Regions from separate parts of the Homo sapiens genome. Here region 2 is linked to region 1. The links come from fine-mapping of genetic effects on gene expression. A gene starts in region 1. The other region holds a variant in brackets. All regions are shown on one strand. Distances are between the middles of the regions. Region 1 holds the start of PAQR4 (progestin and adipoQ receptor family member 4). Region 2 overlaps GREP1 (glycine rich extracellular protein 1).

Region 1 (8,308 bases):
TTGAGGCAGCCGCGGGCCTGGGGTGTGCTGTGGTGCATGGCAGCGGAGGCCCTGAGCCGAGGGTGGGCCCTGTGGCAGGTAAGCTCCCGACAGTGGCGGCTGCCTGCCCTGCTCCCCAGCCCCGGGGGTCCGCCCACCCACATCCTGAGCTCCTCTCCCCCACAGGCCCTGCTTGCCCTGCTCTGCTGGCTCTGGCATGGGCTGGCTCACCCTGCCAGCTGGCTACAGCCCCTGGGCCCGCCAGCCACCCCGCCTGGCTCACCACCCTGCAGTTTGCTCCTGGACAGCAGCCTCTCCAGCAACTGGGATGACGACAGCCTAGGGTGGGTTCAAGTGCAGGGTATGGGGGGCTAGGGGGAAGGTGGGGGATATCACCGGGGCTCCATGGAGATTCGTGGTGAATGGGGACCACTCCCACAAACCTGGCCCCCATCACATCCTGGGGAAGGGGACCAAGACTGGGGGTGTGTGGCCTGGCCAGGCTTAATGCAGCTGGGCATGTGGACTGGCCGTTCAGGGCATGGCTTCACACTTAGGGCACCAGCACCCCAGGGAGTGGCTGGCCGCGCAGCCCCGACCCCAGTGGAGGCTGCCAGTGCCCAGGGATAAAACATTGTCCCTTCTCTGGGAAGAGAAAGCCTCTGGAGTCTGGGGAGCCCTGCCCTGGGAACAAGTCCTTGGTCCCTGGGGCCTGGTGTCTTGAGTGAGAGGCTGTAATTAGGAAACCACACGCTCAGGGCAGACAGCTCTTGGGGACTCTGCCGTTAGCCCCTTCCTTACAAACACATCACCTCATCCCTCGGGGCACTTGATAGCAGACAAGAAGTTCCAGAAAGGCTTACATTTACTAAAAGTTTATTTCAAATCTGCCTCCAAGTCCATGTGTTCTGAAAAGGACAGAGGGGGCCTTGGAGTGCAGCCAGATGGAAGGACTTTGAAGGCTGTCCAAGTGCTGCTTTCAGAGTGCACCAAGTTTTTATTGTCCCTGACTGTGGCTCCCTGCCTGTTTGTCAGGCGGGAGCCTGGAGCCTGCACAGGGACAGAGCTGGTTTCATCCGGCACTCCCTAGCCCTGGACACCCTCCTTGTCTCGCCTGCCCTCCTGCAGGCCTTCACTCTCCCCTGAGGCTGTCCTGGCCCGGACTGTGGGGAGCACCTCCACCCCCCGGAGCAGGTGCACACCCAGGTAAGCAGGTCCAGGGGCTGGGGTGGGCAGGGCTAGCTTTTGGATCCTGAGTGTCACTACTCTCTCCTCCCAGGGATGCCCTGGACCTAAGTGACATCAACTCAGAGCCTCCTCGGGGCTCCTTCCCCTCCTTTGAGCCTCGGAACCTCCTCAGCCTGTTTGAGGACACCCTAGACCCAACCTGAGCCCCAGACTCTGCCTCTGCACTTTTAACCTTTTATCCTGTGTCTCTCCCGTCGCCCTTGAAAGCTGGGGCCCCTCGGGAACTCCCATGGTCTTCTCTGCCTGGCCGTGTCTAATAAAAAGTATTTGAACCTTGGGAGCACCCAAGCTTGCTCATGTGGCAACATGGCCCTTCCTGTCCCTTTATTGATGTCATCCAGGGTCTTAACGCCCCTGAGGCTGAGCCCTGCTGCAGAACCCAGCGCTCCTGGCCTTGGGCCAGCAGCTGAAGCCCCATGCTGTGTGGAGCAAAGAGGTTTCCTGAGCAGGCACATCCCCCGGTGGGTACCTGGAGCTGTTGGGAGTATGGCACTCAAGGTGGAGGGCAGGCACGGCCCAGGGGTCCCAGGATCTGAGGCCGCTGAGCTCCCTGTGTCAGTTTCCTGGAAGAAGCAGCTGCAGCCCTTGTGCCTGTGGCCAGCTGGTACAAGACGGGTCCACGCCCCCTTGGTCCTTTTGTCCTGAATGCCTTACTCCATAGTCTCTGGGCAGAGGGAGCCAGGGCGGGCAAGCTTGTGGCTGCTGGGAGGGCTGGTATGCAGGGCAGAAAGATGGAGATCAGGAAGACTGGCCACAGGCCTGGTGGGAGGAACAGGATAGGGTGAGGAGGCTCTGGGCTGGCGGCCTGGCAGGACTTGAACTCTCAGAGCAAGACGTGACCCCAGAGTCCCTCTCTGGTCTAACCCCACAGGTCACAGAGGGTAAAGAGGTCCCAAGAGGGAAAGGTTTCCTTCCAGCTGACACAGTAAAATAGGAGCTTGGAGGGAAAAGGCAGGGAAGGAAGTTGGAGCGCCACGGCGTGGGTGGAAGAGGTCAGTCCACAGGGAAGAACGGGTGAACAGGGCTCCTGCTGAGACATCTCATGAGCTGGAAGCATCCAAGGAGCCAGCCCCTTGCAGACGAGTTGGGAGGAACACCTGGTGTTGCTAACTCTAGGAGGCTGCTGTGGGCAGGCTGGCATGGCAGCTCAGTCCCGGGGACAGGCGTGGTGGGCAGCCCAGAGCAGGTCGGGCACGACGCCGGCGTGCAGCTGCAGGATGGAGCCCACGCTCAGCAGGTGCATGATCTGGTGGGAGTTGCCCCAGTAGTCAAAGCGGCCAGGTCCCCAGCGCTCGGGCAGACGGGCTACATTTACCAGTCCCCCAAGCAGCGCCAGTGCGTCCATGCGCAGGTAGCAGGGCAGGGAGCCTGGAGCCCCTGAACCCAGACCCACTCCCCGGGCCCCAAATACCAGTAGGCGGGCAGCAGCCTGCCATCCAAATGCCCGGAGCCGAGCACTGGTGGAGGGGGCGGTGAGAGCACGCCAGCCGGCCACACCCGACAACACAGTGTAGCCCACCAGGGCAGCCGGGCGCAGCCAGGGCCTGCAGGCCAGGGTGCAGTGGATGATGGGCAGGGCCCCTGCACAAGAGGAGAGAACAGGAGAGGGCATGTCATTGTGAGGGTCCACCCGCCCTTCCCTACCCATGGCTTGTATGCGTGCCCCATGCCTCTCCCGCCGGTGGCTCCAGCTCCCATCCCTTGGGCCCTGACTCACCAAGGGTGTTGACAAGGCAGACCCCACACATGTCCAGGGCGAGGAGCCGGGCGTACACAGCGCTGCCCCCTTGGTGGCACATAAAGAGGTGATAGAGCACGGAGCCTGCAGGGGGTGCAAGGCAGGCCACGCAATGTGTGCCTCCCAGCCAGCCATCCTTGCCCAGCTGACCCCAGGGCATGGTCATTGGCACCAGCACCAGGAAGCCCAGCAGGGCCAGCCCTAGGGAGGGAGACAGTCATCTACCAGATAGTTTCAGTCACATCCTCAAGGGGACCACGGTTCAGACACAACACAGGACAGGGCAAGACAGGTCCAGGTAATGCTGTCATCCAGTTGGCGGCCTGGCCTTGGCCAGAGACAGGCCCTGGGCAAAAGGCTTTTGGCACTGGTTACTTATCATGGCTCAGGATGGTCTGGGAAGTAGAGACCATGATCCCCACTTTGCAGGTGAGGAAACAGACTTGGAGGGGCTGAGTGACCGGCCCCGGGTGAGCCCAGCAGGTAAGCAATGGCAGAGGACAGGCCTAGGCCGTCCCACTCCCACACTGCTCTCCCCATACAAGCAGGTCACAGGAGAAGGCTAAGGCAGCGAAACCTCAAGTTGAGTTGTGAAGAGGACACATGAGCAGTGATGCCAGCCCGGGGCCACTTGGCTTGCTCTTCCCAACCCAAGTCCTCCCCTCTCCATAAGTGTCCAGACAAATGGAGGCACTGGGCCTTTTTATCTTCTATAAAGGGGTGAGGCCAGGTGGGGGAAGACAAGTCCAGAATGAAGGGAAGGGGGCTTCGAGGGGCTTGTCCCATCTCCCCAGACCTCTCCCTGGGGAGTTTGATTCCAGCCTAGCCCTTTCTGGGAGGTCTCCACCCCTCCCTGCCGGCCTCTAGTACTGGCCTCCCAGGGGCCAAACGGGGCTCCGAAGGCTGCCCACCCTTGTGAGAATGTGGCCTGGCAAAAGCTCGGGAAAGGCACCCAGGCTGGGCCAGGCCGCTCAGGGCCCCTTGCCCGCCTGGGGCAGCTCAAGGACGGGCAGGGCTGTGTCAGCAGAGCTCCGCGGGGCGCGGAGGAGGGGCCGGACGCCTGTTGGGGGAAGAAGGAGCCGCCACCAGGCGGAGCCCCAAGACAGAGCGGCTTGGGGCGGGGGCGTCAGGACGGCGGCGCTGGGAGGCTCCTCCCGGGCCCTCCTCATCGCAGTCAACACCATCTCCCGGCTGGGTGCTGGCGGGAGGGGGTTCCCAGGGCGCTGGGATTACAGAGGCCGGACACCATGCTCCCTACCCCTGGGGCTCAGAGGGATTAAGCAGGCTCAGACCCTACTCTGCTCCCCTCTCCTGACCCGGCCCCCACCCGCCGGGAAAACGGAAGCTGGCAGCGCGGCCCGGGACAATGGCAGCTTTGTCACCGCGGCTACTGGCGGTGCCAGGGCCGGGGCAGCCCTGGACTTGGGCGCTGGGGCCCTCCTCGGCCTCAGTGCCCCCGGCCCAACGCAGGTAGGGCGGCCGGGGGTGTGGGAAGCGCGTTGCGGGACGCGGCTCACCGTGCGTGTAGATGTTGCCCAGTTCGTTGTGCAGGTAGAAGAGGCTGCGCAGGCAGCCCGAGCCGCTGCTGGCGGGCCGGTACCCGGTCAGCACGAACTTATTGAACTGCAGGTGCGGCGGCGAGCTGGCCCAGTCCAGCAGGCGCGGCCCGGCCAGGAACGCCATGGTCCGCACCGCGCGGGCAGCCCGTGCTCCTGCTGTCCCCGAGCCTCCTCCTCAGTGGGGCCGCAGCGCGGGAAGGCCCATCACTGCCTGGCGCCCGGCGCCCGGCGCCCACCCATCGCCCTGCGCTCGATCGGCGCACGCGCTGGCTAGGGGGTCCCAGCCCGCGCCCCTCCGGCGCTGCGCACGCGCGAGTCCGTCGCCCCCGCGCCGGGGCGGAGGCTGGGGACGCACCGGACGCCTGAGCGCACTGCGGTCGGCTCCGCCAAGGCAGACGCGCCGCAGGGACAGCTCGCGGCGGCGGCGGCGGCGGTGGCCGGTAGTCTCTCTGCAGCCAGGAGGACGGGCGCGGCCGGACGCGGGAGGGGACGCCAGGCTCCGCCCAGGCTCCTAGTTCCCGCCGGCCGGCCAGCGTTTCGCGCGCCGGGCTCCTGACGTCGGCGCAGCGAGAGCCAATGGGCGTGGCCGGCGGGGAGGCTCCGCCCCGAGGCCGCCCAGGCCTCGCCTCCTAGCATAGTGTGCGCGCTCCCAGCCTCATTTGCATGGGGTGGCTGTGGGCTTGCGACCCAACGTTCTGGGTCCTGCGGGCTGCGCTAGAGTGACCCTGGCACCTCGCGTCCCTCAGAACTGTGCATCCGGGCTTTCCGCGTGACACCCAGGTCTCCGTACCTTTGGGCACCCACCCTCGGGGGCATAGTCCTGCCACCTAGCCCTACCCTGCAGACGGGGCTCTGTCCAAGGTGCTGCCGGACGGGTCCGGCCTACATCCGGTACGCCCCCGCTCCAAAGTGATCTTTCCGCAGGCTGGACTCCCGAGTGCAGCAAGGCGCTCCACGGTACCCAGGCCTCTGAAGGCGTGCCTCACGCGCCCGCAGCCGTCGGGAGAGGCCCTATCCTTCGCGCTAGGCTTCTCGGAGCGTGGGCCCGGCCCAACTTGCTCCCAGTTATCGCCCACAAGGAGCACCCTTGCGGGGCCCTACCGAGGATAGACAGGAAACAGATTGGAGGCCAGGGGAGCAAAGTCGACCTCCGCCCCGTCCACCCTGAGCAGGGACCGGGAAGGCACCCCTTATTCAGCATAACGCTGCCCACGATCCTCCTCCCCTTCCACCCCCCGCCTTCTACAGGACTCCACCCACCCACCCATCTGTCTGTGTTCTAGGTCCTTCTCTGCATTCCAGGCAGCTCCACCAAAGTCTGCGTGCAACGCCCTTCATTTGCATGGACACACGCAACCCTCGGCGTTTGTATGGTCATTAACATGCTCCTCCCACCACGGAAGAACTTTCGAGGCCCGTACCAAAGTAGATCCTTTATTCAAAATCTGTGGGGGTTTTTTGACTGTTTTTGCTGACCTGTGACCTCTCACTGAGGACGGCAGTCCAGGACCACCCCCAGAGGGGTTCAAAGACCTCCGAAACCAGAGACCACCCCCACATACAGGTCCATGGAGAGGGCCTGGACCATCTGGACCCCCACGGTCAGGCCAAGTCCCAGATAATAGCACCAGATGTTTCCTGTCCGACTTTTGGTCTCCCCAAGGCGACCAGAGGCCGAGCTGCCCCTACACAGGCGCAAGGCCGAGGCAGGGCGCAGCACAGCATCTCAGGTGTCCATCTCGCCGGCGGCGGGCCCAGCGGACCCTCGGGGCCCAGAGTCAGAGAGCGGAGATGAGCGAGCGCAGGGAGCTCTGGCTGGAGGCACTCAGAGGCCGGTAGCCCGCGGCAGAACCCTCAGCCTGGGGGTCCCCGGGGGAGCAGGGCAAGGCCACCCCTCGGGGCTGTTGGTACCACACAGCCCAGCTTCTCCTGGGGCCCCTGGAAGCCCCCAGCGCCGGGGGCCCTTTTCCCGGAGCCAGCAGACAGCTCCTAGAGAGGGAGCAGACATCAGCCGAGCCGGTCCAATCCCGCTGCAGCGTCCTGCTCTACCTGCGATCCCGCGCGCGATCCTGTGCGTGGACCCAAAGCCTCGCTCCCTTAAGAACCCAGGAGTTCCTTCCTAGCTCTGTTCCCTTCTGGGGCTCCAGCTCCCCACCACCGGTCCGCCCTCAGGCCCTGCCCCAGCGCCCCGCACCGTCGGCGCAGCGGACGCAGCAGCCCCAGGAGCAGCAGCAGCAGCACCGAGACAGCCGTCACCGTCGAGAAGACCCGGGCTGCGGGCACACGGCTGCGGTGAGGATGGGCGCGAGGGGGCGGCTCCCTGACTCACTCCCGTCCCGCGCGCCCGCCTCACCCCCAATCGCGGCCGGCGGAGCCCCAGGCCTGGGGCTGCAGCTCACGTTGGCCCCGTCGAGGGGCGCCGCGGGGGTCTGGGCCGAGCCCTCGGGGGCCTCTGGGTCCTCAGCGGCGTCCTGCAGCCCTGCGGAGAGGGGCGTGAGGCGGGGTGGGGAGAGCGGGGTGGGAACAGCGGGCAGGGCGCGCCGAGCTGAGGCTCACCGCGGTAGGTGAGCGCGAAGCCTTGCGCGTGGCCGCGCGCGTCGCTTCGGAAGGTGAGCAGCAGCGCGGCAGTGCCCAGGCGCAGCGGCCCGGACGGCGGTGGGCGGGCGCCATCGAAGGCGCGGAGCAGGCTGCCCGAAGCCGCGTCGCGCAGCTCCAGCCGGTCGCGCGGGTCGGCCAGCTCGAAGAGGCGGAAGGTGAGCTCCAGCGCGGCGCCTGGCGGGCCCAGGGCCCAGCTGCAGTTCCGGTCCGGCCCGTACTCGTCCGGGAAGTCCGGGGAGTAGATGACGCCCTGAGGCGCTGTCCAGTTCCCCTGGCAGGAGCCCACCGACACTGCGGGCGGGGCCGGCAGTCAGCATCCTGAGGACCAGGACACGGCGGCTCCCCTGCCCGGCCAGGCCCCACCTCGAGGCCCGCCCAGGCCCCTGGTCCCCGCCCACTCCTCACCTTCATAGACGCCCAGCCGCCCATCGCCGCCACACAGCTGTCCAGGGTGGCCGAAACAGATCTGGTCACAGTCGGTGGCGGGGGCCAGGCGTCCCCGGGCCAGGTCGCTTTCAGAGCCACAGAAGCAGGCGTAACCGGCCTCCACGCCCGCCAGCTGGGAGCACAGACTGGGTGACCCCAGGGCAGGGGCTGGGGTAGGGGTGAAGTGGTGGGGGCCTGGGGTCGGGGTGGGAATCGGGCTGGAGGTTCAGAAACCGGTGTCTGGGTTTGGCAACCGAGTGTTGGGAGTTGAGTGTGGTCTTTAGGTCCAGGTCAGGGGTCACTGGTCTGGGCCCGTGAGCAGTACCTGGTACCCCTTCATGCGGCAGAAGCGTAGGCACACCTGGACCGTGAGCTTCGTGGAGGTGCCGCTGGGGCCGCTGAGGGCTGGGGGTGCCCCTGAGTCCACAAAGCATCCCAGGTAGCCTGGCACTGAGGGGGCAGAGTCAGACTTCCGTGACTCCGAAAACAACCCTCCTCCCAGATGCAGCAGCGTTCCCACCTCTGTCCAGCCGCGCTACTCACTGTGACAGGAGGGGATGTCGCAGTAGCGCCAGTAGATGCCCTCCTCTGTCTCAGCCACGTAGCACCACGGCTGCACGTCACCGTCTGGGTTACTGCGGGTGGGAGGGAGGTGGTGGGGCTCCCACCACCCCAAGAATAGCAAACCCAGGCCCGGCCCCGCAGCCTATGCTCAAAGTGGCCTTCAAGGCTCTGTGCCTGTGAGCGGCTGTGCTGCCTG
Region 2 (8,308 bases), 27 kb before region 1:
GAGGCAAGCAGGGAAGCACGTTTGTGGTTCTAGCATGGAGGAGACCCCCGGCCAGGCAGCACCAGAGGCCAAGCCCAAGGGTCTGTCTTCCTTGCTGGGCAGGCGAGGGGCATTGCAGTGCTCAGCATTTCCCCAGAGGGCAGCGGCCTGGGAAGACATAGAGCTGGGCTAGGGAGGGGCGGGGCCCTGGTGAGGCCTTGCCCCCTCCTCCCCTCCCAGGGACCTGAGCTTCTGGGGTCAGTCACTCAGCAGCCACCTACAGGTGGCAGAACCTGCTATCCTTCCCAAGGGCTGGGTGTCCCCCAGTATGGCTGGAGGGGTGACCACGGGGGGCCTTTGGGCAGGCGGCTCGGCCATTGCGCCTCCCTCTCACCTCCGTAGCCATTCCCCAGCTGGCCATTGCTGCCTCTCTTCACGTCGGGGCCCCCTGTGGCACAGACAGACAGACCAGGAGCACTCGGGTCACCAGAGAGCTTCCGTCCACCCCAGCTTCAACCCAGGCTGTGGGAGACACCCCCTCCCCGGAGGGCCCAGGGCTCAGCTCTGCCTCAGTTTCTCAGAGGACCGGGGGGAGAGGGACAGAGTATGGAGAACTGAGTCCGTGATGGCCCTCGTTCCCAACTCCATCACCTCCCCTTCTTGGTCCAGTGTCTGGGCTGGCTCTCAGGGTCCCGGGCTCTTCTGGCCTCTCCTCCAGCTCCATTCCTTCCTGCTCCTTCCTGCCTATGCCCTCCTGGCCTCTTCTCACTCACTCCATCCCCTCCGCCAAGAGGGCTGTACCTTCTATCTCTGTGGGGCTGTGGGTAGACCTGGGCCCAGGGCCCAGTTCCCTGAAGCCACCTCTAATGGCCCCAACACACTCATCCAGGCATCCCGTTACCTGGCTGGCTCCTGGCCTCAGCATATTCATCTCCAGCCTGATATCCAGGCTTCAAGCCGGCCCCCCAGGCCTGGAGGGTGGGCCAGCGAGAGTTCCACAGCACCCCGGCCTGCCCTGTGGGGAGGAGAGCTGGCAGGGGTACCCTTGCCCACAGGAGCTGGGACCCCTGGCCCCTGTTGGGCTTGGCTCTGCTCCCAGAAGGCTCATTTCTTACCATTTCCTTCAGGGGCTAGAGCTGCTGCTTTGGGGTACACCAGAGCTTCCACCCCATCCCCTCCAAGAGACTCTGGTCATTCCCGCCTAGCCCCTGGGCTGTTGTCTCCCCCACTCCACTGCACTTTGTCCCCTGGGTCTGACTCACTATTCCTAAAACCATTGGCCCCATGGAACCCTGGAGGAGGAAAGAGGGTGTCAGAGGCTGGGCTGGGGCCCTGAGCCCAACTCTCCCACCCCGACCCCTGCTCCCCAGGCACCTGGCTGTGGGTGGGCCTCGGGGAAGACCCTGGCTCCCAGGACACCATTCCCATAACCTAAACCTGCAGGACAGAGATTGGAGAGGAGCTAGGGACAGGCTAGTGGAACAGGGACAGCATCAGGAGGGCCAGGTGACCAGCTCATAGACAGGGGGATGCGGACAGACAGACTGACTCAGGCATGAGGGAGATGCCAGCTTCCGCTCAACATGGGTCGGGGGCCCAGGAGGACTCACCAATTTTCTGTGGCTCGAGGCCACCATTAAAACCTGGGGGAGAGAAAACTGTGACTCAGAGATGGGGGTCAGCGAGAGCCACAGCCCTGGCCTCCCCTCTTCCTGGGATGGCAGAAGGAAGAGGAGGGAAGAGGAAGGGAAGGGAGGGGAGGAACTCCAGGAAGGGCCTCCTCACCTGGTTCTGCTCCCGGTCCATAGCCATTTGGAGGCTGGTGCCCTGTGAGGAGAAAGGAAGTCAGTGCGGGGGACCCAGGTCTCCCCTGACTCCTTGGAGGCCAAAGATCGACCTTAGGGACTCTGAAGGGGAAGCAGAGACTTTTCCTGTCCACAGGGAATGGAACCAGAAGAAATCTGGAGAGCAGCAAGAGACTGGGCGCAGTGGCTCACGCCTGTAATCCCAGCACTTTGGGAGGCTGAGGTGGGCTGATCACTTGAAGCCAGGAGTTTGAGACCAGCCTGTCCAATGTGACAAAACCCCGACTCTACAAAAATACAAAGATTAGCCAGGTATGGTGGTGCGTGCCTGTAATGCCAACTACTTGGGAGGCGTATTTTGCAGTGAGCCAAAATTGCACCACTGCATTCCAGCCTGGGCGACAGAGCGAGACTGTCTCAAAAAAAAAAAAAAAAAAAAAAAAAGAGCAAGAGGGTAGACTCGGGGAGGGACTTCCTGGCCTTCGGGTGCCTGAATAGCTTAGGCAGCCTAGGGAAAAAGGGTGATGGAGGGGTGACCCTGATCTGGGGTGGAGACAGAGGATAGACCTAGCTGAGAGTTTGTCCCTCTGGGATGTGGGGCCTGGGGGCAGACAGACTCACACCTGCTTTCTGAGGTTTCAGTCCCCACTGGATGGCTGGCATTGGTGCTAGGAGGAAGGTTAGGGGCAGGAGTGAGCCCAGCCGAGGGCTTGAGAGACTGCAGATGCCATGGGGCAGGGATGGAAAGGACTCCCATACTGGGGACCACATGGGGTCCCAGGGCCAGAGTTCAGGCTTCTCCTCAGCAGATCACTGTGTGACAAGTCACTGCCCTCTCTGAGCCTTGGCATCCGAGGACAGAGTGGGATATGGCAGCCAGGCCCTGACCCTCATAGGGCCAGGTGCTTCCCAGTGCCCCCTAGGCACCCCCACTCCACACTGACCTGGTAACTTGCCATTCTGCACTGCGGAAGGGGGCTGGGATTTCAGGCCCCAGCCACCCTCTTTGTCCGAAGGGACCCCTGGAGTGGGAAGCCTGGGGAGGAGCATCGGAGCGACCCTCGCATTGCAGGGACCTACGATGGGAAGGAAGGGAGGGGTGGGGCTATGCTCCAGGCCAGTCCTCACCGACGCCACCCAGGAGGCCTTGGCCTGGCCAAGCCACCGGCCTGTAGTGGCTTCTAGGGCAGACCCAGCACCTTAGGGGGACATTAGCCAGGCTGGAAAAAGCCCAGCTCCCTTGGTCCACACTCTCCTGGGGGGACCTGGGGATCCAGGCAGGGGATAGAGGGATGTAGGGATCTGGCAGGGATGGGGCTCCTGATGGAGGCCCCTCCGTCTTCCAGCAGCCTCCCTCTCCCTTCCTCCTGGGCCCCCACCCCTGGTCCCAGTGGCCTCACCTGGCCAGGGCCCATTTTCATGGCCGTGTCCTGGAGAGGGAAAGCAGAGATGAGTGTGGCAACACTGGGGGCAGAGGCTAGAAGGGCTGAGAGGCAGAAGGAGGTGTGGGGCAGAGCCAGGGGTCCCCCACTCACCTGACTTCTGAGGCTTCAAGGTCCCTCGCAGGCCTGGGGAGAGACAGAAAGAGGCCAGTTCAGACATCAGCCCACCCGAGGAGTGTAGTGAACCCCTCTCTCCCCTGCTGATCCCCCTAGCCCCGTCTTTTCACCTGGCAGGAGCCCCAGCCAGGTCCCTGGTGTGTATCCTGGGAGGGAGAGCAGGGCATGAGGGC[G/A]GGGTTGGAGTGGGGGACCTTGGAGAAGGCAGGAAGAGGGGCAGAGAGCAACTCGGCTTTGGAGGTTTCTGGCTCTCTCCCAGGCCAGAGACCCATGGAGAATAATGGACAGGCCCACCCCACCCCACCCCTTCCCCCACTGAGACCCAACTCTGTCCGTTGGAGCCTGTCCTCCTTCCCCTCTGCTCCAGGTCCCACCCACCTCCCTCACCTGGCTGGGCTCCTTCCCACAGGAAGGCTCCAGCTCCAGCCCGTTCTTGCACCATGGGGAGACAGGGTACAGCTTGGGAGGGGAAAAGGGTGGAGGGGTAGGCAGTTTCTGCAGGTAGGGAGAGTGAGGAGTGGGAAGGGCTTACCTGGCTTCTGAGGTTTCATGCCCTCTCCAGCACCTGGAGAGATGCGAGTAGGTGAGGGACCCATGCCCACTCCTCACTGAGGGGTCTCTTCCAGACCTGGCATCTGTCCCCCACCTGGTGCCCATGCCAACCTCCCCTTCCTGGTCCATGACCAGTGGGAACTGCAGGGTCTGTGGGGGCGGCATGGGGAGAGGTTGGGGTACAGAAGGGGGCTGGAGCCTGGCCCCCCTTTCCTCCCAATTTAGGAACTGGAGCTCCCAGCACCTCCCTCCCCCTTGTGCCGCCTCCTCTCCAGACTCTACCCCGTCTAAGGCTGCAGGAGCCCCCAAGAAAACCCTCAGTACAGGGTCAGGGGAGAGCCAGGCCCCCACCTCTTTCCTCCTTTCTGCACTCCCAGCAACTCCAGCCCCCCAGTACCTGCTCTGTAGCCATTCTGGGCTAAGGGGCCTGTGGGGAGGGAGGGGTGAGCAGGGGGTTTGGGATTCTAGCTAAGGAGAGGGCGAAGGGCCTTTGGATCCCCTTTCAGAGCCAAGTCAGAAACCAGGGATCCTGGCGCCACCTCTCCTCCCTCATTTTGGTGTCCACCTGCTCTGGAGGCCTGGGAGGGAGACAGGGACATCAGCCCGACACCCCCTCACTGGCTCGGCTCCCAGCCCCCTCCTGAATGCCGATGGAGCTGAGGTGGGGTATGAATGAGGGAGGGAGCTCAGGGTTTGGGGGAGGCAGAGGGACAGGCGGGGCAGGGCTCACCTGGCTTCTGGGCCTTCATAACCCCCAAATAGCCTGGTGAAGAGAAAGGGAGCAAGTGAGGGACCCAAGGCCTCCGCTCTGGACCTCCTGGAACCCCAGCCCTGCCCCTTCCTGGTCCATAGCCGTTTGGAGCTCCCAGGCCTGTGGGGCAAAAAAGGGAACGTGGTAAGGCTGAGCCACTGGGGGACAGGGAGGCAGGGGCCAGGAAGGGGGCTCTCAGTCTCTCCCCAACCTCCTCTCCCCTCGGTCCTCGGTGCTCCTACAGACCTCCCCTCACTCATGAGGCAGGGGTCACCCCTCCCCTGGGAGTCCCACGCAGACCCAGCTAGAACACCAGGATCTAGGGGAGGTGGGGCCACAGACACAGGCAGTCCCCTCACCTGGCATCTGAGGCTTCATCCCCGCTCCTAGGCCTGGGAGAGACAGAGAGGCTGACATCAACTCCAGCCAGTGCTGCTGATCCCCAGACCCCAGCTCTCTGTCCCTGTGGCCTCAGCTTCTCTCTTCCCGTCCCACCTCCCGACCCCTCGCGAGCCAGGCCCAGCTGCCCTCACCTGGCTGGACTCCCGGTCCATTTCCATGGCCATATTCTAGGGGGAGGGACGGGGAGGGTGTGAGACGGCGGCATTCGGAGGGGGTGTCAGGAGGACGCAGCCCTAGAGACAGGGCGGGGGCCCAGGGCCCTGGGAGGGGGCCTGGCTCCCCCTCCCAGGCCTACAGAGAGACACAGAGGCAGAGCCACATCCGGCCAGCCAGTGGCACTTAATTCCCCAGGATTCAGACCCACACTCTGCCCTCCCGGCCCCCTGGCCCGATCTTTGTCTTCCCCCTTCCCTCTAAGAAGCCTGGGCTCAGCCCGGTGCGGTGGCTCACGCCTGTCATCCCAGCACTTTGGGAAGCCAAGGCAGGTGGATCATCTGAGGTCAGGAGTTCGAGACCAGCCTGAGCAACATGGTGAAATCCTGTCTCTACCAAAAATACAAAAATTAGCCAGGTGCGGTGGTGGGTGTCTGTAATCCCAGCTACTTGGGAGGCAGAGGTAGGAGAATTGTTTGAACCCAGGAGGTGGAGGTTGCAGTGAACCGAGATTGCGCCACTGCACTCCAGCCTGGGCGACAGAGCAAGACTCCATCTCAAAAAAAAAAAGCCTGGGCTCCTACCCCAGGTGTCCTCACCTGGCTGGGTTCCAGCCCCAGGGAAGGCCCCTGCTCTCAGCCTTTTCCCATATCCTGGAGAGGGAGGGAGCATGAGTAGAGTGCTTATGGCTTCAGGGGTTCGTGCATAGAGAGGCAGACCAGGGCGGGCGGGGCTCACCTGGCTTCAGAGGCTTCACATTCCCTCCAAGGCCTGGAGGAGATATAGGGGGGCTGGTGAGTGACTCAGGGGCCCCACCCACATTCTCCCCCAGCCCCTCCCCACCCCTGCTCCTACCTGCTCCAAATCCAAATCGGTTCTGGGCTGTCAAGACTATGGGGAGAGGAGGGTGGGGTGGGGATTTGGGGTTTGGTTGAGGTGGAGGTAAGGGAATCCTGGAGGCTTCCTCCCAGCAGCCCTTCAGTTATTCACCAGCTCAGCCCCCCATGAGACTGGGAAGGGAGGCAGGGAGAGGACGCCCCAGGGGTAGAACCCCAGACCCCATCTGTCTCACCTGGCTGAGCACTCAGCCCATTCCCATTCCCTAATCCTGGGGGACAGATGGAGGTGGGGGTGAGAGGGGGAAGGGGGCTCTGAACACTGGGGAGACAGAAGCCCGGGAGAGCCAGGCTTACCTGGCTCCTGTGCCTTCATGTCCCCTCTAAAGCCTTTGGGAAAATGGGGAGCAGATGAGGTACCTAGGAGCCCCCAACTCAGATCCACCCCAGAACCCCAGCATCTGGACCCCAGCTCCTCCCATCCCCCTCAGGACCTGCTCCAGGGCCATTCTGAGGTGGGGGGCTTGTCGGGGTGGGAGGGCTGAGCTAAGCTGGGGACACAGCGCCTATGGTTCCCCTTCAGGGCCAAGCCAGAAGCCAAGGATCTTGGAGACGCCCCGTCACCCCTCTCCATCATTCACCAATCCCGCCCCTGGGAGGAAGAGGCCGCCCAGATGCAGACCCTGGAACCCCAGACTGTACCCCCTTCACCTGGCTGGGCTCCCAGCCCAATTCTGTACTGGAATCCTGGGGGAATAGATCAAGGCGGGGTATGAATGAGGGGAGGGAGCTCAGGTTTTGGGGAGGCAGAGGGACAGGCCGGGGCAGGGCTCACCTGGCTTCTGGGGTTTGACGGCCCCCACATAGCCTGGTGGAGAGACAGGGAGCAGGTGAGGAACCTGGGGCCCCAGCTCTGGGCCTCCCCAAACCCCAGCCCCGCCCCTACCTGGTCTATAGCCATTTTGAGTGGTGGGGCCTGTGGAGGAGAGAAAGGGTTAAGGCCCTCCGGAGCCCTGGATGCCATCTCCAGCCACCTCGGGCAGGGGTGTCCCCACCCCCAACTTCAACGAGCCAGAAAGGCAGGTTCCTTTCCTCAGCAGCCTCCAACTGTCAAGCTCCAGCTCCTGCCACATCTTGGGTCTGAGCTCTTTTTTTTATTTTCTTGAGATGGAGTCTCGCTCTTGTTGCCCAGGCTGGAGAGCAATGGCGTGATCTTGGTTCACTGCAACCTCCGCCTCCCGGGTTCAAGCAATTCTCCTGCCTCAGTCTCCTGAGGAGCTGGGATTACAGGTGCCCGCCACCACGCCTGGCTAATTTTTAGCATTTTTAGTAGAGACGGAGTTTCACCATGTTGGCCAGGCTGGTTTTGAACTCCTGACCTCAAGTGATCCGCCCGCCTAGGCCTCCCAAAGTGCTGGGATTACAGGCGTGAGCCACTGCGCCTGGCCAGGTCTGAGATCTTGCTGGAGCCTGTACCTTCTTTGTTCAAAACTCTCCTTTTGGTTCAGTTTCTCAGAGGGTTGGGCCACTCTCTCCTCCCTGGCCTCCACTGCCTCCTAAGAACTCCCAGAGCCCAGCTCTGGGGCAGCCTCAGCCCATACTGTATGCCCCAGCGTGGCCCTGGTTGGGGAGGGCCTGTCCCCAGCACCTGGTTGGCTCAGAACAGGCATGGTCCACGGATTACTTTGGTTGTTGTTTGTTTGTTTGTTTGTTTTTGAGACGGAGTCTTGCTTTGTCACCCAGGCTGGAGTGCAGTGGCACGATCGGCTCACTGCAAGCTCCGCCTCCTGGGTTCACGCCAGTCTCCTGCCTCAGCCTCCCGAGTAGCTGGGATTACAGGTGCCCACTACCACGCCCGACTGATTTTTTTGTATTTTCAGTAGAGACGGCGTTTCACTGTGTTAGCCGGGATGGTCTTGATCTCCTGACCTTGTGATCCACCCGCCTCAGCCTCCCAAAGTGCTGGGATTACAGGCGTGAGCCACTGAGCCCGGCCTGTCTGTTTTTTAAACAGGATCTCTCTCTGTCACCCAGGCTGGAGTACAGTGGCAAGATCTCCACTCACTACTACCTCGACTTCCTGGGCTCAAGTGATCCTCACCTCTCAGCCTCCAGAGTAGCTGGGACTACAGGCACGTGCCACCACAACTGGCTAGGTTTTTTTTTTTTGTAGATGGATTGCTTGAGCCCAAGATTTCAAGACCAGCTTGGGAATGTTGCCCAGGCTGGTCTTGAACTCCTGGGCTCAATTGATCCACCTAACTCTGCCTCCCG

What was found. PIP is the estimated chance that this variant, and not a neighbour inherited with it, causes the effect. A credible set is the group of variants that fine-mapping cannot tell apart.
Region 2: its variant is the best candidate, but not a certain one, in a credible set for the expression of PAQR4 in cerebral cortex (GTEx, PIP 0.67).

Annotation. Positions count from the first base shown.
Region 1 is chr16:2,966,015-2,974,322 of GRCh38, reverse strand. PAQR4 (progestin and adipoQ receptor family member 4) reads right to left here and starts at 4,975. Exons shown (of 3, transcript NM_152341.5): 1 at 4,483-4,975; 2 at 2,945-3,166; 3 at 839-2,808. The coding sequence starts at 4,648. The coding sequence ends at 2,375. KREMEN2 (kringle containing transmembrane protein 2) reads right to left here. Exons shown (of 9, transcript NM_172229.3): 3 at 8,092-8,183; 4 at 7,874-7,998; 5 at 7,528-7,681; 6 at 7,081-7,413; 7 at 6,878-7,003; 8 at 6,719-6,797; 9 at 5,943-6,513. The coding sequence ends at 6,303. It overlaps PKMYT1 (protein kinase, membrane associated tyrosine/threonine 1), which reads left to right. Exons shown (of 9, transcript NM_004203.5): 6 at 1-78; 7 at 166-323; 8 at 1,108-1,185; 9 at 1,259-1,515. The coding sequence ends at 1,370. RefSeq lists enhancers at 1,905-2,721, 5,471-5,550, 5,004-5,993, 8,272-8,308 and silencers at 3,971-4,110, 4,381-4,500, 4,531-4,580, 4,591-4,760, 4,791-5,210.
Region 2 is chr16:2,993,400-3,001,707 of GRCh38, reverse strand. GREP1 (glycine rich extracellular protein 1) reads right to left here. Exons shown (of 29, transcript NM_001396456.1): 12 at 6,981-7,010; 13 at 6,870-6,902; 14 at 6,746-6,781; 15 at 6,392-6,424; 16 at 6,054-6,089; 17 at 5,937-5,969; 18 at 5,177-5,212; 19 at 5,003-5,035; 20 at 4,623-4,655; 21 at 3,873-3,905; 22 at 3,320-3,352; 23 at 3,185-3,214; 24 at 2,729-2,860; 25 at 1,765-1,806; 4 more. The coding sequence ends at 122. Among named protein-coding and RNA genes, the nearest start is that of GREP1, 9.3 kb to the right of the region's middle. RefSeq lists enhancers at 1-228, 2,526-3,026, 3,027-3,527, 5,195-6,167, 7,487-7,988. The variant G/A (reference allele first, on the strand shown) is at 3,517.